7 linked regions of the Homo sapiens genome follow. The protein of the gene in region 1 interacts with the protein of each later gene in a biochemical or structural test. Each region holds a gene or a part of one and is shown in the gene's direction. Other genes may lie near its edges.

Region 1 (3,500 bases):
TACCGCACCCTGGTAACTGCCAGAGTTTCCGACCCTGCATGGGAAGGAGGCACTGGTTTGGGGAATGGGGGACTCACCCTTGGCCCAGGCGCTGTTGGCGGCCTTTCTGCCCAGCCCAGTGAGGAGCAGAGCACGAATCAGGGTGGCCTGAGTCCTGCAGAGGGGACCCCTGGGCGGTGTGGCAGCCCTCCTGGTCCTGACGTGCTCTACCAATCGAGCCACACTCCCGCCAAGGCGACCCGCCAGCTGTGGGCCCCGAGGAGGAGGGAGCCCGGGCGGAAACAGCGTCACCCATAGCTTCCAGGCAGGGCACTGACTCGCCTCGCCCAGGTGGGGTCTGAGTCACAGTCCTGCCCTCCACACTCCCTCCCTGGGTGGGCTCCGCACCTCTCCATCTGCCGGGAAGATCTGTGGGACAAGATCCCCCCCCGCCCTCTGGCCTCTCCCTCTGGATGCCCCATGCTCTTTCTGGGCTGCTTTGGGGCTCTGGCGGCTGGGGGGAGCGGGGGGCTGACCCAAGGCGGGTTACACAGAGAGGAAGGTGACGGGGATAGGCCCTCGGCAGGACAGGCCTACTCCAGGATCGGACCTACCTGAGCCCTGTGGGGTGGCTGTCCATGTTGGCCCTGGTCCATCAGGAGGAGGAAAGAAGGGAGACTTTGGCCCAGGCTTCTAGGACGTGTGACCGAGAGCTCCTGGGCCTGTGTCCCCCCAGGTGGTGGAATTGGGCATCCTGGACCAGCTCTCCACTGAGGAGCGGAAAAGGCAGGAGGTAAAAGGGCCCTGGGCGGGAGGGCTGTCCCCCATGGCCTGGGCCATGCAACACCCGGGGAGGGGCAGCAGCCACGGTGGCACCACCCAGCCATCCCTCTGCGGCCACCTCCAGTGCCAGGCCCTGTCACGCTGACCAGCGCCTCACACAGCCCCGGGCTGTGCTTCCACCTGCGCCAGGCCCTGACGGAGCCCCTTCACGTCACCGGGTGAATCCTCGGAGTCCAGGGGCTGCCATCACCCCCTTCTCTGACAAGGACGGGGGTCGTTGCCCAGCTTCAGCCGGCTCATAAGGCACCCAGCCAGGGGCATCCAGGGACGTCGGGCTGGCATCTCCAAGCTGGCCATTCTGACAGCCCCATCCAGGGGTGTGTCTGGGGTTCCTGTCCCCACCTGCCCCTGCCACCCGGGTCACGTCCTCCTGTTCCAAGCATTGGTCACCGAGGCACGCCCGTGTCCAGCGTCACTGTGGGGCTCACCTAGGCCCCTCTCCACAGGCCATGTTCGAGATCCTCACGTCGGAGTTCTCCTACCAGCACAGCCTGAGCATCCTGGTGGAGGAGTTCCTGCAGTCCAAGGAGCTGCGGGCGACCGTGACCCAGATGGAGCACCACCACCTCTTCTCCAACATCCTGGATGTCCTGGGTGCCAGTCAGAGGTGAGGCCACGCCACAGCCTTCCACACAGGGTCCTCTGCCAGGAAGGTGCCTCCCCCCGTGGGCACCGCACTGTCATCAGCAGGCCCCTGGGAGCCTGCGCTGCACCTTGATGTGGATGGTTTAGAGCAGCTGCTGGCTCCCGCGGAGTGTGATGACCTCTGAGGGTCCTTGAGGCCACCAAGAGCTGGCCCCAGGGCCGGGCTAAGCACTGGGGCTGTGGCATCCTGGTCGTTCTTAAGACGTGGAGCACTTCCCAGGGGTACAACCCTGCCCCACTGCCAAGCACCACCCCACCAGGACGTCCAGGCACAGAGGGCTGCATGATCCAGGCAGTGGTGGCCACAAGCTGCTCACCTGTAGGCAGGAAGCCTCGAGTTGCAGCTCTGGGTCATGTTCCACCCAAAGGTGTCTGGTGGCTGGACCTGAGCTCTGGTTGCAGGGCCTGGAGGTAGAGAGGCTGGACATGCAGCTGCAGCCATGCACGGGGGTATGTGCGTGGGGTGGGGTGGGGTGTGTGTGCGTGGGTGTGTGTGTGGGGTGGGGTGTCTGTGCATGGCTGTGTGTGCATGGTCAGTGGTGTGTGTGAGTGGGCTGGCCCCGAGGCCTGGAGGGTGGCTCGGGAGCATCCAGCACCCTGGTGTGTATGCATGGGTGTGTGGGGGCAGGGGTGTGTATGCATGGGCAAGGGTGTGTATGCATGGGCAGGGGTGTCTGCACGGGTGTGTCTGCACGGGTGTGTGTGGACAGGGTTGTGTGTGCGTGGGCAGGTATGTGTGTGTGTAGGTGTGCATGGGTTTGTGTGCCTGGGCAGCAGTGTGTGTGCATGGGTGTGGGGCAGGGGTGTGTATGCATGGTTGTGTGTGCGCGGGTGTGTGCATGGATGTGTGTGCATGGACGGGTGTGTGCACAGGCAGGGATGTGTGTGCGTGGGCAGGGGTGTGTATGCGTGGTCAGGGTTATGTGTGAGTGGGTAGGGGTGTGTGTGAGTGGCTGTGTTTTCGGTCAGGTGTGTGTGAGTGGGTGTGTGTGCGTGGGCAGGGATGTCTGTGTATCTGCGTGGTCAGGGATGTATGTGAGTAGGTGTGTGTGCGTGGGCAAGGGTGTCTGTGCATGGCTGTGTGTGCGTGGTCAGGGGTGTGTGTGAGTGGGCTGGCCCCAAGGCCCGGAGGGTGGCTCGGGAGCATCCGGCACCCTGGTGTGTATGCATGGGTGTATGTGCATGGATGTGTGTGTGGGCAGGGGTGTGTGTGCGTGGACAGGTGTGTGTGCGTGGGCAGGGGTGTATGTGCGTGGGTGTGTGTGCCTGGCCAGGGGTATGTGTGTGGGCAGGGGTGTGTGTGCATGGGCAGGGGTGTGCGTGGGTGTGTGTGCCTGGCCAGGGGTGTGTGTGCGTGGGCAGGGGTGTGCGTGGGTGTGTGTACCTGGCCAGGGGTGTGTGTGCGTGGGCAGGGATGTGTGTGTGCATGGACAGGTATGTGTGCATGGGCAGGGGTGTGTGTGCGTGGGTGTGTGTGCCTGGGCAGGGGTGTGTGTGCGTGGGTGTGTGTGCCTGGGCAGGGGTATGTGTGGTCTCGACCCTGTGCTGCTCCCTATATGCAGGAGGACCCCGGAGCATCGAGTCTCCTGAGCCTCAGCCTCAATGCTAACCTGAGGGGCGGTGCCTCTGGTCCCCTCGTGGGCTTGGGTGGCGCTGGGAGATGATTAGGGGCCTGTAGTGCCTGGCACAGGGCTGCCCCAACAGTGGTGGTTGCTGGCGCATTCTTATATCAGCCCCGCCCCTGGCGAGTCCCACCCATCTGCTGCCTGTGGGGTGCCCTTGCGGAACTTTGGGGCCCTGAGGGTGGGCAGGGAGCCGCCTTGTCCCTGGAGACAGGGGCTTCCTGTAGAGCTCCAGGGACCAGCTATGGGAAACTCCCAACCTCTGACTCAGCATGGGATGGGGCTGGGGGAGGGGGAGGGGTCTGGGATAGCGGCTGCCCCTCCCCCAGCTCTGCCCCCAGCCAGGCAGGCTTTGTGTTCTCTGAGCTCTGTGTCCTCCGGTCCCCTCTGCCTCAGGCAGCTGCATGTTTG
Region 2 (2,954 bases), about 110 Mb from region 1:
TAGGAGGCTGAGGCGGGCGGATCACGAGGTCAGGAGATCGAGACCATCCTGGCTAACACGGTGAAACCCCATCTCTACTAAAAATACAAAAAATTAGCCGGGCGTGGTGGCGGGCGCCTGTAGTCCCAACTACTCGGGAGGCTGAGGTAGTAGAATGGCGTGAACCCAGGAGGCGGAGCTTGCAGTGAGCCGAGGTCTCGCCACTGCACTCCAGCCTGGGCGACAGAGCAAGACTCCGTCTCAAAAAGCAAAACAAAACAAACAAACAAAAAATCCTACACAGGAAAGTTTTATATGGCTATTAAAGATCTGGGCATCTTCAAATCAAGAACCAAATTCTAGAATTTGATTAACATTCTAAATTTGATTTCTATAAATTTAGAAAATTCCAAATCTGATTCTAGAATTTGATTCTTGATTTCAAGATGTCCAGATCTTAGTTAGTAGCCATATAAAACTTTCCTGTGTAGGATTTTTGTGAGTAAACCTGAACATTGCCACTTCCTGTTGTTTGTTGTCATCTGTCCTCTCATCAACTCTCACATGGCAGTACTGGGTACACGTTAGGTATTTTACAAACGAAAGAATCACTTAGCAAGGTTGAATGGCTCAAGAGCTGACAAAAGCAGAATTTACAAAGGATGCATAGTTTCATGTTGTTCCTGTGAATGTTCTCTGTCTAGGTTGGTGACCAGATTGTTGAAATCAATGGGGAACCTACACAAGGAATCACACATACTCGAGCAATTGAGCTCATTCAGGCTGGTGGAAATAAAGTTCTTCTTCTTTTGAGGCCAGGAACTGGCTTGATACCTGACCATGGTAAGTAAAGTAGCCCACTAGTAGCTGAAAAGTTGTATATTAGGGAGGGGACAGAAGAAAAAGGAATATATATTTGGAGAGGATAGATATTTTACTAGTTAATTCAGAGGTGAATGCTAGAACCATGAAAAGCTAGTTACATAGCAGAGTTATCATAAATAGTATTAGAAAACAAGTGACTTAGGCAGGACTTTCGTTGGAATGGAATGTATTTTAAATTTAATCAGAAAAAACATATAGTTGTTTTTGTAGAGAAATGTACCTATTAAAAAAGTGTATTAGAGGCAAACAATTTAAATACCATAAAAAATGTTTTAAATCTCTTCAAAATATCCCAGCTTTTTCTCTTACTTAGCTAATTACACATTACCAACCAATATTTTTATTTCTGTAAAGCAAGATAAGTTTATATTATAATGAATGCGCAGCATGAAAACTTAGGCTTTTCTGGTGACTCGGCAAAAACAAGTTGCTATCACCCTACCTGGAGACAGGGAGTTGGACCTGAGACCATTTCTGTCCTGTATTAATGTTAAACTTCCTGGGTTTCCATGGCATGTTTTGAAATATCATGGTATTTGAAAGTCACTGTTTTTTGAGTGCACTATTCTAGAAATAAAGGCAGTACCACACCCACGCAGTACTTGCCTCATCTAGCTCCCCACCTCCTGCCCTACCCCACCCCACCCCACCGCTTTTGAGGGATAAGTGTAGACATAACCTCCTACAGTACCCTTCCAGCTTATGATTCTCTGACTGTATTATCTTCCACCATCTGCTTGTAAATCATATGTTCCCAGTGACATCTTTGCTAACTGCACTGATTTTTTTTTTTTTTTTCACATAGTCCTAGGCTTTTTCTCTTCCCTCTTCAGGTTTGGCTCCTTCCGGTCTGTGCTCCTACGTGAAACCCGAGCAACATTAAGGCTTTCAGGGCTTTTCTTGGTCTTTCCTTAAAAAGACTTGGTAAATTTGCATGTCTTGTAAATCACTTTCTTCTTTTGTTTTCTTTTAAATTAAAAATGATGCTATTAAATACATCTATTTCTATCTTCTGCACTTTTCAGTCTTCTTTTGACATTAAATTTGACAGCTTAATGCAAGAGAATTATTACAAATGCCCATGAGCCTCATTCTGGTTACCACAGTTTGGTTTCCTTTATTAATTAGTGATTTTGCCATATCCTAAACTGTATCAATTCATAATAATTAGTGAGCTTCTTGGGCCACGTAATTTGGTTCAGCTTTATAACTTGTAAGTTCTAATTGGGCTTTACTAATAGAGAATTTACAGATCATATATTATCTCACTAATTATATGTAATTGGAAAAAATGAATATTATTTTGTGTATATAAACAACCCATCCTTCATGTATGAACAGATGTCTGTACACATCCGCCTTTATAGAGAGATATGTTGTAAACATATACAAACTGTATAAAATACTCAGGCTTTTTAAGCAGTTACGACAATTCAAATGGCTGTCAAAGTTCAAAACGTATTGTTCCTATTTGTAATTCTAAAATTTAATAATGTTCCATTCAAATCACTTTTTTAGGTGATTGGGATATTAATAATCCTTCGTCTTCAAATGTGATTTATGATGAACAGTCACCATTACCCCCATCTTCACATTTTGCTTCCATATTTGAAGAGTCTCACGTGCCAGTAATTGAAGAATCTTTGAGAGTTCAGATATGTGAAAAGGCAGAAGAATTAAAGGACATTGTGCCTGAAAAGAAAAGCACTTTAAATGAAAATCAGCCTGAGATAAAGCATCAGTCTCTTCTCCAGAAAAATGTGAGTAAGAGGGATCCACCCAGCAGTCATGGGCACAGTAACAAGAAAAATCTATTAAAAGTAGAAAATGGTGTTACACGAAGAGGTAGATCGGTTAGTCCCAAAAAGCCAGCCAGTCAACATTCAGAGGAACATTTGGATAAGATTCCTAGTCCTCTAAAAAATAACCCCAAAAGAAGACCCAGAGATCAATCCCTCAGCCCCAGCAAAGGGGAAAATAAAAGTTGTCAGGTCAGCACCAGGGCAGGCTCTGGACAAGATCAGTGCAGAAAAAGCAGAGGTCGGTCGGCCAGCCCAAAAAAGCAGCAAAAAATTGAAGGAAGCAAAGCT
Region 3 (4,069 bases), on another chromosome or scaffold:
TGCGTTGAAGAGGCAGTGACAGGTGAGGAAGTAGAAGTAGAGAGTGGAAACCTTGACCGCAGAAAGCTGGCTGTGAAGGAAGGGGCCGCAGTGTGTTTGTTGGCCATGAAGAAGAAGCTGCACAAGAACAGGGGAAGAAACTGAACAGGCGAGACAGAGTGGGAACATCCTGTTGAGTCACAACTGAGTTGTCAACACTTTCTCCGCTAGTGCGAGGCCCTTTAAAAATTCACTGCCCGCATGTGGCTCCAGAGAAAACACCTCAAAGAGAGAAGATAACCTGTCCAAGTGAAGGCAGAGAAATCAGCACAAGATTCAGTAACAAATTCGCTTTTCAGGACTATTATTGTGGCTGTTTGGTCTATTACAAAAGCCCAGCTCAGAAACTACAAGGTCAAGCTTGAACAGATGTGCAGAGATGTTCTGGACCCAGTCTAAAAGCTGATTCTTCCCAAAGGCACAACATTATTAATTGGCCAGCTTATCAATGGATGCTCTTTCCTGTAGGTTTGTTTAGAGACAATACTGCTAGTCATAAAGTTTGCTGATTGCTGGCTTGCTCATCTCGGTGGGGCAAGTGCAAGGCCGTGCCAGGAACTCCAGATGACTGGAACATACACAAGCACAGTGCTAGCCATAGACACCAACACTGAGCCAGGGTGCGGGGGAGCCCGAGCAGGGGGCATCCTCAAAGTGCTTCTTTATTTAAACTATGCTCTGGGGCAATGTTTCATAATGACCCCACACACCTAGCGCGTACACACAGAGCAGTCTACACACACAGCCTCACTATGTCCGCTGGCCTGCTGGCTTTGCTTTCCACCCCTCTAGGCAAGGTCCACAAATTAGCAGCCTTTTAACCCTCCCAGGTCTCCGTTCTCGGGACCTTCAGAAGAAAAAGGCAGTCAGAGAAACATGAACGCGCTAATCAGGAAACCAGCGTTTCAGCCCACTCAGCCACGCGGGCCGTCCACACTAACGACTTTCACCTCCCCTCGCCTGGGCTGGCTGGAGGGGCGGGGAACCCGGCAGTAAAGAGGAGGACCAAAGAGGGGCCCTGCTTGAATGAAACAATGTAACAATTGATGTGAGGCCTCGCCTCGCTCCCACTCCCCAGCGATCCTATAGGCGAGGTCCCAGTGACTGCCCCTCCCCATTGCTCCGTTTTCTTGTCCATTACGCGCTATCCCTCCGCCTCTCCTTCTTTCTTTTCTTTTCTTTTTTTCCCTTCTCCTTTTCCCCCCTCTCTCCCCCTTTCTCCAGCTCCGTGTCATTTCCTCCTTGCGCTCGCTCGCTGCCTGAGCGTCTCCAGCCGGGAGAGTAGGCGGAGCAGGGCGGTGCGGGGTGGCGTAGAGCTGGAGGGCGATGGTGGCGGAGCTGCTGGGGGCGGAGGCAACGTAGCCCCCTCGGAAAAGGAGCCCGGCGGCGCCTGAGCCCAGCCGAGGATGGAGAACCGGCCTGGGTCCTTCCAGTACGTCCCTGTGCAGCTGCAAGGGGGGGCACCCTGGGGCTTCACCCTTAAGGGGGGTCTGGAACACTGTGAGCCGCTCACAGTGTCTAAGGTAAGAACTGGCGGCTGATGTCCTAACGGCGCCTAACTTTGAATGGACAAGCGGGTGCGAAGGCTGCCGCTGGACGGGGCCCTCAGGCCAACTTTGAAACTTAGGGCTGGGAGCGAAAGACCCTCTGAGCGGCACGGAGGGGTCTTGCCACCAGTCCAGGTGCAGACATCCCCTAAGGGTGGCTGGAACACGAGCTGGGAGCACAACTGGCCCCCGGCTAGAACCTTGCGCGCAGACACACTCGCGAGGGCGCTGGGGCAGCCCTTGCTGCCCCACGTCGGGGCGGCTACTTCCCTCAGTTTGGGCCGAAGGAAGTGGAGGCTGTTGGGGATTTCTCCTTGGAGGCCTCTGCGTCCCTGCGGGACAGTGAAGGACTGAAGGGACAGTCATCGCGGCTTGGCAGCTCTCTTGGCAGCGTTGTCCCCTCTATCGACCGGCGGGCCGTCCCTCCCAGGCAGGTTGCAGGGCTAGGGGCTGGTGTGGGAACGGAGATGAGGCCATTGGTGGCTTTTGCCAGCCACACTTCCCACGGCCGGACGCGCACACATCCATTCAGCTCTTGGGGCGTTGTTGCCGCCGGTTCGGCTCGGCCTCTCCCTCCCTCCAGAGTCCTGCCCCAGCGCCGGCGAGATTTCCTGCACGTTGAGAAGTGTGGAGGAAACTTGCGCCATGGAGCGCAGCTGTGCTGGAGCTACTGCTGTTGCTGCTGCCGCTGCCGCCGCCGCCGCCGCCGCCGCCGCCACTGCCGCCGCCGCCGCCGCCGCCAGGGTTTGTTTGTTTTAGGAGTCTGTGATCTGCTGGAAGCCAAGTTGCAGCTGAGGACAGGAGAGAGGAGCTCTCCTGAGTGCTCCAGAACCCCCAAAGCGAGCCTCCCCCGTAGGGGTGAGGGCGAGGGGTAGGGGCAGCTGGAGCTGTTACCAGGAAGAGTGACTTGTGGGACGACTCACCTTGAGGTGCCAGATTGCCAAGTGAACGGACTTTACGAACTTTATTCCACTTTTTTGTTGTTTCTCTTAAATCCTCAAATCCGAAAAGCCCTCCCGCTTCCAACCCGCTTAAATGGCAGTTGAAGTTGTAGATGTGGGTTCAGGCTGGAGATAGAAAGATGTGTCTTTTCAGCAGGGAGCAAATATCACTTTTTTTTTGCGGGGGGGTGGGGTTCAACATTGGTCACATCTCAGCAGAGGGTTCAGCAAACGTCCACCGCAACACACACCCACAATAACCTGTGCGGCATTCGCCTTGCATTGGAGCCTGTGGTTGACTTCCAGTGTATGGGATCCTTCAGGCCTTGGGGCCCACACTCTTAGCAACCCTGGAGTGTTGCCATGGGTGTACCAATCAGATTGAGGAGTCTGAGGTATGCTGAGGCAACATTTTGAGGGGCTGGCAGGGACCCCTCTGATCATTAGCCTCCCCAAACTAGCCCAGATCTTCATCCAGCACCCTTTCCCCCATACTTGTCATGTACTTTAACCAGCCTGAGATGCGTTTGTCATCCACTGTCACAACCCCTCCTGAGGCAGTCTCCCTCCAGTGTTCTCTGGAGAAAGTTATATGCTTTTTTTTTTTTTTTTTTTTTTTAACAAAAACACTCAACTCCTTTGGTGAGGGGAATCCTGGCCTTCAGGAATTTCTTCTAATCAAGCTCCTCCTCTCCCCACTCTTTCCACCAAGGTCACAATGGGATATGCAGCCCTCCATGATCTGGCAGTTCCTCCCTTTCTTTTTCTCCTCACACCGCCCACAGAATTTCCACAGTCTGCCTAGACAACCTGCCTTGGAGAGGTCATTTTTCAGCTCTGCCCAGAGCTGACCCATCTTGAGAAGCACCCCAGAGAGTGCTTGCTGCTGTGGTCCCGGATTATTTTGTGAGCCAGTGAGAGCATGGCAGGGGGTGTTACTAAGTATGGGGCAGCCAGCAATTTGTGGTCTGGCTGGGGGATTATTTGAGAGGGTAGATGAGGGTTTCCTTGGCCAAGCTGTAGAGGAAGTGCTTCGTGTGTTGAGAGGCAGGGTGCCTTTTAATGATTCCCTTTCCACTGAATGTACAGTTGACCCCTATTATATGAAGGCTCATTATGACATGCATTTAGATATGCAAGGGATAAAATTATTTCTCCCATTCCTCCCAAATAGCCTAGTTCTTAACAGTAAAAGTCAGTTATAACTGGGTTGGCTTCAACGGTATATAAAGGGACCATAGTATTTTTTTAAGCACAATGATTGCCTGTATTGTGTTTTTCTTGACAAGACACTGTTTTGGCATATTTCATTAATTCCCTCTTCATTTTTCAACCTTGATTTTATTTCCTTTTATGATTCAGAACAATACAGCTTTCTCCTTGAAAACAGCCTTCTTAGTCTGTACACACTGGTTGGGATGGGTGGAAGGTAATAGAAAGATAATTGGGTTGGCAGATTAAAAACTTGGGTTCTAATCCTTTTTCTGCCACTCTCTAGTTCTGGAATCCTAGGTATATCACTTGCCCTACCTGGGTCTAGGC
Region 4 (3,500 bases), on another chromosome or scaffold:
AGAAACTTACACTGTGCACATCTGATTTCGTGGTTATTTTTCCTGTGGCATTTTAAATTAAGAATTCCTTTTCTATTGAAAAATGATTAATGTTCACCTTTCTTTTATTTTAGTTACTTTATGTTTTTATGTTACATTTAAATTTTAATTAATCTGTTATATTTAGCATAGTGTATGAGATTGAGTCTCCATTATTTTGTATTATTTAATTTAGTTAATAGTCCTTTTCTCCTTTGGTCTAAAGTCCACATTAATAATAAATAAAGCTTTCCATGTGATGACTCTCCTTCTGGACTCTGTGCTATGTTCTACTATCTCTTTTATACACACAATAAGACACCACTTTAATCATTGTAGATTCTTAATAAATTTTAATATCTGATACAGAAATTTTCTCTTTGTTACTATGTTTTAATTTTTTTCAAAATTTTGTTGACTAGTGCATTTACTCTTCCAGATAAAATTTGGAAATTTCATTCCTAATGTTAGCATTATAATTTAGGTCTTCATTGCTTTTCACCCTTATGACCTGAATCCCCACACAGTCCATTCTGTGACCTAGTGCAGCCTAACCTGCTTATAGTTTAACCACAATGTAATAAATAATAACGATGATGGTAAGATAACTCATTTGCCATGTTTTCTTAAAATTTTAAATTTTGGGTTCTTAATGTGATATTAATTTCAGATTTGTCTCCAGGGAAAAGAACATTGAACCTCCTCCCTTTAAGAAGTGTCATTGTATTTTCAGAGTGTGGAAGGAGAACACCATGAGAAAGCTGTGGAACTACTCAAGGCTGCTAAAGACAGCGTCAAGCTGGTGGTGCGATACACCCCAAAAGTTCTGGAAGAAATGGAGGCTCGCTTTGAAAAGCTACGAACAGCCAGGCGTCGGCAGCAGCAGCAATTGCTAATTCAGCAGCAGCAACAGCAGCAGCAGCAACAAACACAACAAAACCACATGTCATAGGTGAGAAGTGACTTATTCTATACAAGGAGTATATATATATATATACACACACACATATATGTATATATGAATATACTTAAAATATATTTTAGATATGTTCTAAAATATATTTTCTTAGCTGAAACAAAATCATTAGATTTAAATAATCCAAACAAAATCAATCAAACAAAAGACAGTGATCTAAAAGTATATAAGCAAGATAGTTTATGTGCCATTCAGCTATATTCTCCACAAATATAAGATAATTTGGAAAATGATATACTTTGAAAGGGGCAAGTACAGGCTCTAGGATGCTTTTATACAAATTAAGAAAATGCAGCCTCTGTGCAAACCCAGATCCTAAGGAGAAGAGTGTGGGCTGGATTCCAGGCCTCACTCACCCTGTTGGCCAGTTGCCTTTACACAGTGTATTAACTGCACAACCTTATAGTGCTGACCCTGGAAAGATCTCCTTTAGAATACTGAGATACAATTTATTGGAAAAGTGCCCCACTGAAAAGAATGAAGCTGAGACCTGCCACTGTCTATGCTGTAAGAGATTCTGAAGTTCTCTGCGGATGCTCCTTTAAAGTGTGTCTAACATACAAATGGCCAACAGCTATATGAAAAAATGCTCAACATCTCTAATCATCAGAGAAATGCAAATTAAAACCACAATGAGATATCACCTCATACCTTTTAATTTGGCTATTATCAAAAAGAGGAAAGATAACAAGTGCTAGTGAGGATGTGAAGAAAAGGGAACCCTTGTACACCGTTGGTGGGAATATAAATTGCTACAGCCAATTTGACAGACAATATGGAGGTTCCTCAAAAAAGTTCATAGAATTCCATATGATCCAGCAATTCTGCTTCTGGGGAGATATTCAAAGGAATTGAAATCAATATGTCAAAGAGATGTTTACACTCCCATGTTCAATACAGCATTATTACAACAGCTAAGATATGAAAACAACTGAAGTGCTATCAAGGGATGAATACATTTTTTAAATGTGGTAAGTATGTGATAGATATCTATATCTACCTACACACACACACACACACACACACACACACACACACACACACACAGATGTATACCATTTAATATTTAGCCTTTAAAAAGCAGGAAATGTCATTTTTGTCAGCGTGGATGGGCCTAGAGAACATCATGCTAAGTGAAATAAGCCAAGCATGGGCAGACAAATACCACATGATCTCACCTATGTGTGGAATCTGAAAAACTTTAATTCATAGAAGTAGAGAGTAGAATGTGGTTTCCAGAGGCTGGGAGGCTGGGGGAGGAGGGTAGACAGAGAAAAGGGAAAAGGTCTTAGCTAAAGGTTACAAGTTTCAGTTAGGTAGAAGGGGAATAAGTTAAGATGATCTATTATACAACTTGGTAACTATAGTTAATAATACTACATTGCATATTTCAAAATAGCTGAGAGAATGGACTGTAAATATTCTCACCACAAAGAAACAATAAGTATTTGTGGTAACAACTTTGGTAGCCTGATTTGATCATTCCACAATGTATACATGCATTGAAATATCGCATTATAATCCATAAATATATAAAATTATTACTTGTCAATGAAAAATAAAACTTTAAGAGTTTTGAAAAAGTTGTAAAGTAGAAATAAAATGTGTCTAAGATTCTCCTGCCTTTTTCTAAATTCCACTTTGTAACAAAGAACACTAAATCAGGTTTTGCTGTATATTATCAAGAGAATTGAAGAAAAAATGTTAAGAGACCCCATCTTAGAAGTTCCTACTATGCCCTATGCCCTTATCACATTTTATCCCTAATCCTCAGAAAAAAACCTTCAAGGCAAGTATCAATAAATAGTTTTTTAGATGAAAATATGAAGCTAAAATAGCTTCAGTGGATTTCCCATGACTGCATTTACAGAAACATAGAATTCTTTTCCTTTTTACTCCATCAGGTTTTCATCTGCCAACATCAGATATTCTGGAGTTATATAAATTTTCCTTGCTATCCTTTGGAGAAGACAGTTCATATTGTTAGATACCTTTACACTATGATGTCTGTGAATGTGTATTTGAAGTGAACTTCAAATATTCTTGGAAAAATGATTGTGGGTAATAGTGGTTTTAGGTCATTCAACATCAGATTACTATTTGCACAAACAGAAATATTGGATATAACATGAGGCTTTTAATTGTTTGTGACACTTGTGAAAAGAAGAAGCTACAGGCTGGGAGCAGTGTCTCATGCTTGTAATCCCAGCACTTTGGGAAGCCGAGGTGGGTGGATGACGAGGTCAGGAGTTTGAGACCAGCCTGACCAACATCGTCAAATCCCATCTCTATTAAAATTCAAAAATTAGCTCCTGTAGCCCCAGCTACTTGGGAGGCTGAGGCAGGAGAATTGCTTGAACCCAGGAGATGGAGATTGCAGTAAGCCGAGATCGAGCCATTGCACTCAAGCCTGAGCAACAAGAGTGAAACTCTGTCTCAAAAAAACCACAAAAAAAAAAAAATGAAAAGAAGAAGCTACACAGAAAAGGGGGGAAAAGATAGGGAT
Region 5 (4,005 bases), on another chromosome or scaffold:
TTAAAATACATATGTTCTTTGAAATGAAAGAAAAGCTAATGTTTCTCCATTTATTCTAACTTACAAATTAAGCTGTAAAAGAAAACCACAATAGAAATTGCGTAAATTACCCTTAAGAATCAGCCAATTTTTACCACATACTTTCATTTGGTACACCTTAGGTTTCCTTATGTTTCCATTCACATACTACCATTACATAAGGTTTTACTTTTTTTTTTTTTTTTTTGTCTTTGAGCCCTTCAAGTGAAGTTACCATTGAAAATCAAACAATACCTGTCCAGTGTTGTAAATTAAATATCGTGTAGTTTGATATCATATACCTGCCTTTCCATATCAGCCTTTCATTAATTATAAGTACAAACACCAAAATAATTGTTATCAAGCCCCACAGTAGTTTTTAACTTCAGTTTTCAACTTAATTCTCATTATCCCATACTTTTAAACAGAAAAAAGTTTTAGTACATATATTACCTGGAAGTAATTCTAATCTGTTCCAATAACTAAATAGCTGAGGCTTCTGGGTTAGATATGGTTATCTTCTACTGTTCAAATTTTTAATACAAAGCATGAATGTTAAATTTGTATATAACATTATTACAAAATGACACTGGTAACATGAAATCAGAACAACATTCTTTCCCGAGTACCTAGTACTTACCCACAAGGCATTGTAGATTTCTTTTCATTTAAAGAGTGGATAACAATCTTGGAGTAGATAACAATGAAAACCTAGAAAAAAAAACCCACCTCCTGTTTTTATTGAGTCAAACAAGCAGAACTTTGATTGGAAAGTCCCATTTCATATATTACACTGGTAGTATTTTCTTCTAACGAAAAAAAAAAAGCCCTTGTGCCACCACCTTGACATGTACTTAAACGTTTACCCAAATCACTTAGGCATTGCTTCTCAAACTTGGCTGCATAGCAGAATTGCCTGGAGGGTTTTTAAAAACACAAATGCCTATGTCTCACTCCCTGAAATTCTCCTTTAATTGGTACGAGGCGGGGCTATTCTAGGAACTATTTTCTATCCCTTGGCAATTAGCCATCTGTATAGTATTTTTAACTTCCTACGTGTTATTAACTGTAAGACTGTTTGAATTGTCAGGTCTTTGTGGTGAGCTGAATTCTGCATGGCAGTGCTTACTGTGCAGAAAGGTTGCAATGCCTCACTTTGCCTTAATCCATGTTCCTCTAACTTCCTTACTCTTTCTCTCAAGAGGAGGCAAGTGGCTGTGGCGGCCGCAGCAGTGGCTGATCATCACTGAAAATACCAAAGAAAAGAACTGAGCTGCCTCCTTCATATTTTTTCCATTGAGGATTAATTTACCGTGCTTTTTCATTTTCTCTACATCCTGCAAAAGTTTTTTTCTCTCCTAAGAAACAAACTATGAACTGATTGTTGAAAAAAAGAAGTAAAAAGTTTTAGCACAGCTTCTCTGTCTCTTCGGGACAAGTTAGAAAATTCTGAAGTGAGCCGAAGCATAGTAAGTGCTTTCTTTCTTTTTAAGCTACTTCTGGGGAGGGAGGAGGCTATTGTAATGGTAAATTTCACTCCGAGAGGAAGAAAGGGTTGATAATCAATCAAAAATGAGGTATTCCTTTGAGTATTTGTGATTTTCTTACTATATTGTAAGATGCTTTTAATTTTCTCTGTAAAATAGGCAGAAATGGTTTTAGTGTGTGTATGTGTGAAATAAAAGCTCAGAAAAGCAATCTTCAGAGCGCCACTGAAGGAAGTTTTGACGAACGGAGTAGAGATGTATACCACTTGGGGGCTTCAGTGAGAACCCAGAATTCCTGGAGGAGGATTTACATTCAGAAATGTTGAAGTGAAAATTCCTTCTGGTTCAGCATCTTGGAGTTCAGCTTGGAAGAACATTTTACGTATGGAAGAATTTGCTTCTCCAAACCTCTCTTTTGGCCATTGTGTGTCCTGAAGGATGGGACAACTTGTGCTGTAGAAGCACTGCTTGCCTGAGTTTGCTTCAGGCATTTTAAATTTAACTTGAGGGATCATGTGTTTGGCATGATGAGGACCACTGAAGACTTCCACAAGCCTAGTGCCACATTAAACTCTAACACGGCCACCAAGGGAAGGTACATTTATCTGGAGGCATTCCTGGAGGGAGGAGCTCCCTGGGGTTTTACTCTAAAGGGTGGCCTGGAGCACGGAGAACCATTAATCATCTCTAAGGTATGTTTCTTTTTCCAATATTGCCTTTATTCAAATTGTTTTTTTCAACTTGTCAGATTTGTCAAAAATGCAAAATAATGAGAACTGCCTTAATATAACTTAATTTGCTGTTTCATGCCTTTCTGATTATCTAGAAATATTTTGGATAGCCTGGGATTTGAAAGAAAAATGTGTCTAGCTCATTTATTCTATGAAATCCGAAGAAAAATATGCCTGTTTGATGGATAATCTTCTCTTTTTGTGAATGAAATCGCATACAATCAGTTACCACATGAGCTTTTCAGTTATAAATCAGATTAAAGATTAATAACATGGTTAAGATGGTGGCATGGTATATATTTGTGCATTCAAAAATATCTGCTTTTTCTCTCTTCAACTGAAAATAGCATCTAAAAATATTTTAAGTTTGCTTATAATTCTGGATAATAGATTGCATAAATACCATGTGTTGCTTTTTTTCCCCACACTCAGAAAGGAGAATTAAATCAGCTTTCAGCATAACTCAAGATCAAAACATTTCTGCCTCTCCTATTTATCTGTATATTTGAATCCCTTTTTAAACCTTAGTCATCCTGCAGCATACCTCAATTCTTCATTTATCTTTTGGTGTGGGTAGTCATACCAATGAAATATTTATGTACTGGGGTTAATATTTCTATTTTTCTCTTAAACTACAGATTAACATTACTTGTTATAATATTGCTTTTAAATTTTTAGAGTATTTAATAGTCTGATACAATAGATTATAATGGCTTTTCACACATGTGCATTCATCAAGAAACATTTGTAATTAAGGGAGAAAAAATTTTTAATTTGAGGGTGGGAAGAAGGTAATATGGATTGCATTTGAGCTCTGTTATTGGTTCAGGTTACTTTTCATATCCCCAGAAATAATTCCAAAAGGTTATTTTTCAAATTACTGAAGTAATTCTTACTGTGGATGAGCCAGGGAGAACTGGGTTTCACAGTGATAAGCCACGAGTGCACGGGACACCATTATAAGTTGTATGACTTTTCCTTAACTTTCTTAAGTAAAACAAAAGGATGTGCATATGTGTGTGTCAGTTAGGAAGGCTTCCCCCTGTGAAAAAAATTCAAAACCGAGTTTATAGTGGCTCTCAGTAAATTGGGGTTTGTTTTTCTCATATTACAAGAAGTTTGGAGGTAGATTTTCCAGGCAAGGGGAGCAGCAGCTCAATAATGTGATCAAGGACCCCACTTATCTCTCCACTCTGCCATTCTTATGATGTTGGCTTTGTCTTCATGGTTGCATGATGGATCCCACAACTCCAGCATTGATTGCATCTTCATTCCAGACAGGTTTTTGGCTTTTTGTTTCTCATTAGACCTTTGCTTTCATCTCATTAACCAGAACTGTACCCTGTGCCTGTCTTTAGGCCAATCACTGGTAAGAAATGCCAGTGATTAATACAGACTGATTAGGATTTCTTTCACAGGTTTCTACAATAAGGACCTACTCTTCCTGAAGTCAAGGAATCATTGCCCACTGTTTGAATGATTTGAGGTTCTTTTTGCAGGAAGAAAGAGGGCATGGTTGCTGAATAACAGATAATTCTGCAATGAACATAAATATTGTCTCGGCATTTAAAAAGTCTAGTTGTACACAATTTGCCTGTCCCTTAATGATAAAATATTCTGTATCTATACACTACAGTATCTGACAGTTTGCTGACAGAAAGGTCTAATCCTCCCACTAATGAGCCAGCTTCTCTAAGCCTCCATTTTACCTGCAGAATGGGGCTATCCTACTATCTACTTTAATGGGTTGTGTTTAAATGCAACCATGC
Region 6 (3,500 bases), on another chromosome or scaffold:
CTAGCCTGGGCAACAAGAGCAAAACTCCATCGCAAAAAAAAAAAACACTAGTCAGCAGATCGAGATGAAATTTATTAAATTTTTCTTGTAACTTTTATATGTTTGAAATTTATTAAAAAAACATTTTTAAAAATTGGAGAACATGAATCCATATGTATATAATTTTATTTATTATTTATTTATATCAATATCAGGTTAAATGTCACCAATATTGGCCAGAACCCACAGGCAGTTCATCTTATGGATGCTACCAAGTTACCTGCCACTCTGAAGAAGGAAACACTGCCTATATCTTCAGGAAGATGACCCTATTTAACCAAGAGGTAAGAAGGCAGGATATCTGTTCATTAGAACTGTTGTGTTCAGGGTAAAGACTGAAAGCTGAAAATGTTTTTAGTTTGAGTATTGGTTGCTAGGAAATACTATAAGAATTATTGAATTATTTATCTGCTTTAATGGGGTACTTTGGAATTTTATTAAGAGTATTATCCTATTCTATTATAAAATTAATGTTTTTCTTTAGTTTCTATGACTAAATATGAATGGTCAGTGAAAAAGTAGTCTGGTAAATAATACTACTGTTACTACTTTGCTTATTCAGAACAACTGTTTAGATATGTTTCATTATAAAAAAAACTTTTACTCCAAGTAGTATCAGTACAGTATTTGGGTGTGTCTGTGGAAATGGAAAAAACAATTGAAAGCTATTAAATTATTTTCCTTTTTTAAAAGAGTAGAGGAGAGCAACTTCACAGTCCCCTACCTATTAAGAAGGAAAAGGTTGTAACCAGGACCTTCTGACAGCAGATGGGGTGTAGATTTCTAATTGCCAGCTCTTAATTTTGCCTGAGTCAGTCCTCTTGGCTTCAAATGAAACTGATTAATAAATGATGGCTCAGTATCCCAATTGGAAGATGTATGTAGAGAGCGTCATGCTGCCAGTTCTGTCAGGCTGCTAGAGACAGTGCACCCTACTTTCTCTGCCTGCAGCTAGCTATCCCCCTGCCACCATCTTTGGTTTTGAAAGGGACTAAAAGAATAACTGCTAGAGAAGAGCAAATAGCCCAAGCTATGAGTGCCCAGGACTATCCCATCAATGGTCAAGCCTTTGGAAATGAGAACTCCCCTCCAACCCCAAGAGCATGATTAAAGGAAACCAGAGAGACAGAGTCTTACTGACGAAAAGGGAAGAAGCCAGAAGTTGTGCTGATTTATAGAAAAGGAATCTGGCATTGAATAAAGCTAAAATGACAAGAATTTTAAAATTTCAAAATTTTATGGGCTAGAGTCCATCAGAATGAATTTAGGGTTTGGGGACATATACTGTGTAGCTCATGGTCTAATGTAACAGGTCAAGCCAATATGATATTTCTTCATTTTCTCAAATAGATAATGAAAGATAGGCTACGTATGTTTATATAAAATAATGTCTATCTTTAGCATAGTCTCTATTATACTCCACCTGTAGATTATCCATGACAGTTTTATATACCATAGTGGCTTTTCTTTACACACCCTGAGTACATTAGAACTAAGACATGAGTTAGTTTCTAAAGTTTGAGCCAAACATAATTGGGAAAATGAGTTCGCTCCCATAAATACATACATACATGGATGGATTAATGATAGCAGATACTACCTCAAGTCTTGAATACCTTTTACTTTTACTCTTCAGGAAGCTCTCTTCAGTGTAAATGGCAATAACCATAGTTATAATTATAGTGTTGAATGACTATAGCAACCATTTATTGAGTATATGGTGCCAAGTAGCTGATGGGGTGATTTACAGGTCCTCTCATGGAGTCTTTTTAGCATAAGACTGATCCTTTAAAGTATAGATGTTATTTCATTTTTCAGTTGAAGGAAATTATTTTCTGAAACACTGAATGCTGTAACTGGCAGAGTCAAGATTTGAACCAAGATGTATCTAAACGCAATACTCTTACTGTCTCCGTTATACCAACCTTGGCTCTCCAAAAAGAATTAATCCCACTGATTTGACTTTGTGTTTTTATTAACTCCAATTTTTAATATACATTTATCTTGAGATTTTATTTTTCTGATTTCCATAATTTCATCTGCATTGTGTGAGGATTAGGTCAGCTTTGTTCACAAAAAATGTTTTTTACTTTACCATTTTTGCTCACCCAAGAATTCATTAGTTTTTTTTAAGCATTTCTCTGGGTCTTAATTTGTTTCTACCTATGTACTTGATTATCATCTTTAAAATACTTTACACATATAGAAATTGAGTTATAAAAAGAGTAGTAATGTAATTAGCCATACTTAAATGGATACAACTATTTCTGTAAAATAGTTTCTTTCCTTTTTGTTGAAATTTTGCATTTTAATGAGTTTATACATAACTTTTGGTGGAGAAGAGGAGTGGTTGGTTTTGCTTTCCTTCTAAAATTCCAATGACATGAATATATTTTAAAGATAATGTCATAGTACCAACAGGTTCATATTCCTGCTGTGCAATAACAGACGAATACACTGAGACAGCAGGGATGCAGCAGATAAAGAGTTTAATGATCGCAGGGTACCGAGCAAGGAGATGGGAGGAGACCCTCAAATCATCTCCCCAAGGAGATGAGATCTGGGATGGGGTTTTTAAGGGGATGGTGGAGAGCAAGGGGCTGGGAAGTTAAGATCGTTGATTGGTTGGGATAAGGTGGATGAAATCATCAGGAGGTGCATTCTTTGGTGAGTTAGCTTACCTCAGGGTCCTTTAGACCAACTGAGTCAGTAGTTTCATCAGTATGCAGGACCCAAAAGAATGTCTCAAAGGGGAAATCTAACATTTCATAATGTCCCAAGTTGTTATCTGTAGAGCAGTTAAGGGGAACTATAATCTTGTAATGGGTCTGTGGGATTCTGAGGCAACAGGCACCAACCAACTATGAGGACGCGGGTCAGAGAGCAGCTGACCTAGTGATCAATGCTAAGTGTGCTGCAAGCTGTGTTTAGTTTTCTATCTCCCCCTCCCTTCTTTCCTGATGAATTTTATGAGGTTTGTAGGGACAATTTCAATAATACATAAGTCAAGGTGCATAATTTTTCATTTGTTCTTAGAAAAATGAAAGTCGTCCACTCACTCAGATCCAGTACATAGCCTGGCCTGACCATGGAGTCCCTGATGATTCGAGTGACTTTCTAGATTTTGTTTGTCATGTACGAAACAAGAGGGCTGGCAAGGAAGAACCCGTTGTTGTCCATTGCAGGTACTCTGTTTTCCGTCTTTTATGAGTGTATAGCTGAACAGATACGTCATTTTTAAAAGAGAGTACATATTTTGTCCTTATGGTGTTATTGTCACTGTAATAATTAGAACTCAAAGCTATGCTCTGAAGGTAGGAGGCAAAGGATATGTTCTAACATATGATTGGCAGTAACTTTATCATAAGATATAAAAATAATACTGATTGCACTGATTCTTAGATGCTCCTCCTTTTCATATTTTAACACCTCTGAAATTGGTCTTAACAATTTACAATAGA
Region 7 (3,500 bases), on another chromosome or scaffold:
AGTAGTAGCTGGGATTACAGGCGCATACCACCATGCCCTGCTAAAAATTCTTAATAATTATTTAACATGGGGCCTTGCATTTTCATTTTGTATTGGGCCCTGCAATTTATGCAGCCAGTCCTGGTCAAGATGTAAATAGATATAAATATAGATAGAGATGCAGATACAGATATAGGCACAATATTATATCTCAAATGCACTGACAGACAGTCTCACATGATTCAGGCCAAAGCACAGTCTAATTACGTGATTTAATTATGTGATTAAAGGCAAAGGCAGAAAACTAGGGAAAGTACAAAAGTGGAGAGCCTTTAGAGCCTTTACTTTTAACCTTTAGAAGGTTAAAGGTAAGAGATAAAGGGAAAGGCAAATTCAGGTCTCCTGAGAATAGTCAGGTTAAGTGAAATATGATCAAAACTCCAAACTTGCTACCATAGCCCATAAGACCCTAGGAAATCCAGACCCTGCCTACTTCTCTAACCTTATCTCCTACCACTCTCTCCCTGTTCACCACACTCCAGTTGCACTTCTTTCTTTTCTTTAAACACCTCAAGTTTGTTTTACTGCCCTCAGACCTTTTCTCTGCCTGGAATGCTTTGTCCCTCAGCTTTTTTCACAGATGACTTATTATTTGGATCTTAGCTGGGACACCCTCCCCAGTCTAAATTAGCCCTTCTCTCCTTAGTCACATTTGCTATCACCTTTCAATATCTGAAATCTAGTTCATTTAATTGTATCTTTTTTTTATTGTTTTTCTCCCACCACTAGAATGTAAATACCAAAAGAGCAATGATCTTGACTTGTTCACCATAATATCACATGCCCTTAGTGTTGTACCTGCACATAATTGTACTGAGTTAAAAATTTGGTGGATGAATGCATGAATGAAAGCAAACAGAAGGCAGTCCGGTAGCCTAAGGAAACTTCTGAGAGCAGTGAGCTGTTGTGCTGATGAAGACTCCTTTCAAGAAGACTAAGACTTTCTTTGAAGTAGTTTTCTGATGTTTCCCACTGAGTTGGGCTGTGTGTTACAGGCAGATGCTTATGCATCCTGAAATAGGACCAATTGTCCCATAGAACTGATATTAATCATTTCTTTGAATAAGCACAGAAATTGATTCTCCCATTGTTAAAACTTGAGAAAGTTAAATTTGTCTTATCTGAGTTACTTTCTCAGGAAACCAACCATCAGGCCTCCCAGATACTATCAAGAAACTGAAACTTACCAGATCATTGCATCTGGACAATATGATACCAGACCCTTCAGCCATCATGACTGCCTTACCCAGGGGTACCCAGTCCTTAGGCTGCAGACTAGTAGCCGTCCATGGCCTGTTAGGAACCCGGCCAGACGGCAGGAGGTGAGTGGAGGGCAAGTGGGCATTACCACCTGAGCTCTACCTCCTGTCAGATCAGTGGCAGCATTAGATTCTCCCAGGAGTGAGAACCCTATTATGAATTAGGCATATGAGTGGTCTAGGTTGCATGCTCCTTATGAGAATCTAATGCCTGATGATCTAAGGTGGAACAGTTTCATCTGGAAACCATCCCCCACACCCCCATGCGTGGAAAAATTGTCTTCCACAAAACTGGTCCCTGGTACCAAAAAGGTTGGGGACTGCTGGCCTAACCAATCACTTGCTACCTGTTGACCAACTCCTCTTCCTTACCCCTCCCTAATTCCTGTTTTCCCACACATACTTACATTTTTTCCCTGCCATATAAGCCCCTAATTTTAGCTCGTCAGGGAGAGGGATACAAATTTCCCATCTCCTTGGCTGCGGCACCCAGTTAAAGCCTTCTTCCCTGGCAATACTCCTTTCAGTGATTGGTTTTCTGTGTAGTGAGCAACAGGACCTAAACCGAACCCCTGGCATTTTGGTAACACCCCCAAGACAAATGAGTAGCATTTCTGAACTCGTTAGATTCTTGAAAGAAAAAAACATGCACTAGTAAACAGAATATTGCCTTTGGGTACAGAATAAAAGATAATAAAATACAGTTGGCCATCAGTATCCGCAGGTTCCACATACACAGGTTCAACCAATCACAGATTGAAAATGAACATTAGGCCTACAATGGCTGTGTCTTTACTGAACATGTACACACTTTTTCTTGTCATCATGCCCTAAATAATATAGCATAACATATTTACATTGTGTTTTGTATTATAAGTAATCTAGGGATGATTTAAAATATAGGAGAGGATATGCATAGGTTATGTGCAAATACTACACCATTTTATATCAGGGACTTGAATATCTTCTAATTTTGGTATCTGCAGTGTCCTGGAACAAGTTCCCTGAAAATACTGAGGGATGACTATAACTCTTTGATCTTTTATATATTGGTTTCCTGAAACTTTCATGTCATTTAAAAATGATCAGTTAAGTTTAGCCCAGGGAAAATAGTCATTCCTGATTTTGCCAATTTTCTTAAACAACCTTAGGATTATATAAATAGCTGATGTTATCTTGAGGAATCTCTGCTGTGATAAGGTATAAAACAAGTTACCAGTTTCTAAATGCTGTCATTTTTGTGTCTCCTCAAGTATAATACATCCAACTTTATAGGAAGAAATATTTACATTTTTAATATTAGCTTTAGTGAATAAATAAATAGTAGGCATTTCTAACTTGTCAGTCCACAGAAACCAGACAGATTATTTACTGAGCAGCCAACATCATTGTGCCCTCTTCCTCTTTTGAAATGACCTTAATGTGAAATGTCACTACACTAGTACACTTTTCCCTCCACTCTAATCCCTCCCAAATGACCAACTGCAGCCTACCCCATCCCATTCATGGGTCATACTGATCTTAGAGGTGGACGTATATTTTAAAAAGAAAATCGTTCCCTCAAAAAACATTGGGAGACTTGTAGTTTAATAAGCCTGCCATAAAATTTTTGATTTGTAGAGCCAAGAAAGAACCTTTAAAGATCATTTTATGAATGATTTTGACATCGTACATATGAAGACTAGGGAGCAGAGTAAGTGGCTGCTCAAAGTCATATGTCTAGTGGGCATCTACCCTCTGGACTGGTACTCTTCCCAATGCAATAAAAAAAACATGAAATATATGTACTATGTAATATGTACTATGAGCTTCTTTGCTATGAGTCATCTTTCTTTTTAAATTATAGCAGAAAATAAGTGTATTTATTTCTACTGCCTGTCAATTTGCTTACAAAGGAGTTGTCATAAGAAGTTATTTAAAGGATGTAGCTGAATTTCTTTGTGAAACACCAGATCTATGTTATTTTCTCTTTTAAATTGCAACATTTGTTGATACCTTAGCAAATGAAGATGAAAGAAGAAAATAACATAAAGGGTAAAATGACATTAAAGGAGACATAATTAGAAAGAGCTGATATTTAGATGCCAAGAAGGTACACTGGAACATGGTAACTTTTTTGATATTTTTCCTTCTTTATCCAAATAATATATCAAAGTATATATCCTTGTTGTAAGCCATTCAAAAAATAAAGAATAACTTAAA

What was found.
Region 2: the proteins of ARHGEF16 (region 1) and MAGI3 interact in a test that uses a peptide from one of them, tested with the Homo sapiens proteins (one large-scale study listed by IntAct).
Region 3: the proteins of ARHGEF16 (region 1) and SHROOM4 interact in a test that uses a peptide from one of them, tested with the Homo sapiens proteins (one large-scale study listed by IntAct).
Region 4: the proteins of ARHGEF16 (region 1) and LIN7A interact in a test that uses a peptide from one of them, tested with the Homo sapiens proteins (one large-scale study listed by IntAct).
Region 5: the proteins of ARHGEF16 (region 1) and SHROOM3 interact in a test that uses a peptide from one of them, tested with the Homo sapiens proteins (one large-scale study listed by IntAct).
Region 6: the proteins of ARHGEF16 (region 1) and PTPN4 interact in a test that uses a peptide from one of them, tested with the Homo sapiens proteins (one large-scale study listed by IntAct).
Region 7: the proteins of ARHGEF16 (region 1) and STXBP4 interact in a test that uses a peptide from one of them, tested with the Homo sapiens proteins (one large-scale study listed by IntAct).

The regions. Positions count from the first base shown.
Region 1 is NC_000001.11:3,468,165-3,471,664, forward strand, and holds part of ARHGEF16 (rho guanine nucleotide exchange factor 16), read left to right. Parts: intron 1-715; coding exon 716-772; intron 773-1,268; coding exon 1,269-1,429; intron 1,430-1,835; coding exon of another isoform or gene 1,836-1,917; intron 1,918-3,500. UniProt on the Homo sapiens protein: Guanyl-nucleotide exchange factor of the RHOG GTPase stimulating the exchange of RHOG-associated GDP for GTP. May play a role in chemotactic cell migration by mediating the activation of RAC1 by EPHA2.
Region 2 is NC_000001.11:113,680,515-113,683,468, forward strand, and holds part of MAGI3 (membrane-associated guanylate kinase, WW and PDZ domain-containing protein 3), read left to right. Parts: intron 1-683; coding exon 684-822; intron 823-1,669; coding exon of another isoform or gene 1,670-1,779; exon of another isoform or gene 1,780-2,382; coding exon 2,383-2,954.
Region 3 is NC_000023.11:50,811,395-50,815,463, reverse strand, and holds the start of SHROOM4 (protein Shroom4), read left to right. Parts: upstream 1-1,269; 5' UTR 1,270-1,445; coding exon 1,446-1,562; intron 1,563-4,069. UniProt on the Homo sapiens protein: Probable regulator of cytoskeletal architecture that plays an important role in development. May regulate cellular and cytoskeletal architecture by modulating the spatial distribution of myosin II.
Region 4 is NC_000012.12:80,808,935-80,812,434, reverse strand, and holds part of LIN7A (protein lin-7 homolog A), read left to right. Parts: intron 1-751; coding exon 752-970; intron 971-3,500. UniProt on the Homo sapiens protein: Plays a role in establishing and maintaining the asymmetric distribution of channels and receptors at the plasma membrane of polarized cells.
Region 5 is NC_000004.12:76,434,024-76,438,028, forward strand, and holds the start of SHROOM3 (protein Shroom3), read left to right. Parts: upstream 1-1,205; 5' UTR 1,206-2,029; coding exon 2,030-2,197; intron 2,198-4,005. UniProt on the Homo sapiens protein: Controls cell shape changes in the neuroepithelium during neural tube closure. Induces apical constriction in epithelial cells by promoting the apical accumulation of F-actin and myosin II, and probably by bundling stress fibers.
Region 6 is NC_000002.12:119,962,422-119,965,921, forward strand, and holds part of PTPN4 (tyrosine-protein phosphatase non-receptor type 4), read left to right. Parts: intron 1-194; coding exon 195-323; intron 324-3,075; coding exon 3,076-3,224; intron 3,225-3,500. UniProt on the Homo sapiens protein: Phosphatase that plays a role in immunity, learning, synaptic plasticity or cell homeostasis. Regulates neuronal cell homeostasis by protecting neurons against apoptosis.
Region 7 is NC_000017.11:54,975,265-54,978,764, forward strand, and holds part of STXBP4 (syntaxin-binding protein 4), read left to right. Parts: intron 1-3,500. UniProt on the Homo sapiens protein: Plays a role in the translocation of transport vesicles from the cytoplasm to the plasma membrane. Inhibits the translocation of SLC2A4 from intracellular vesicles to the plasma membrane by STX4A binding and preventing the interaction between STX4A and VAMP2.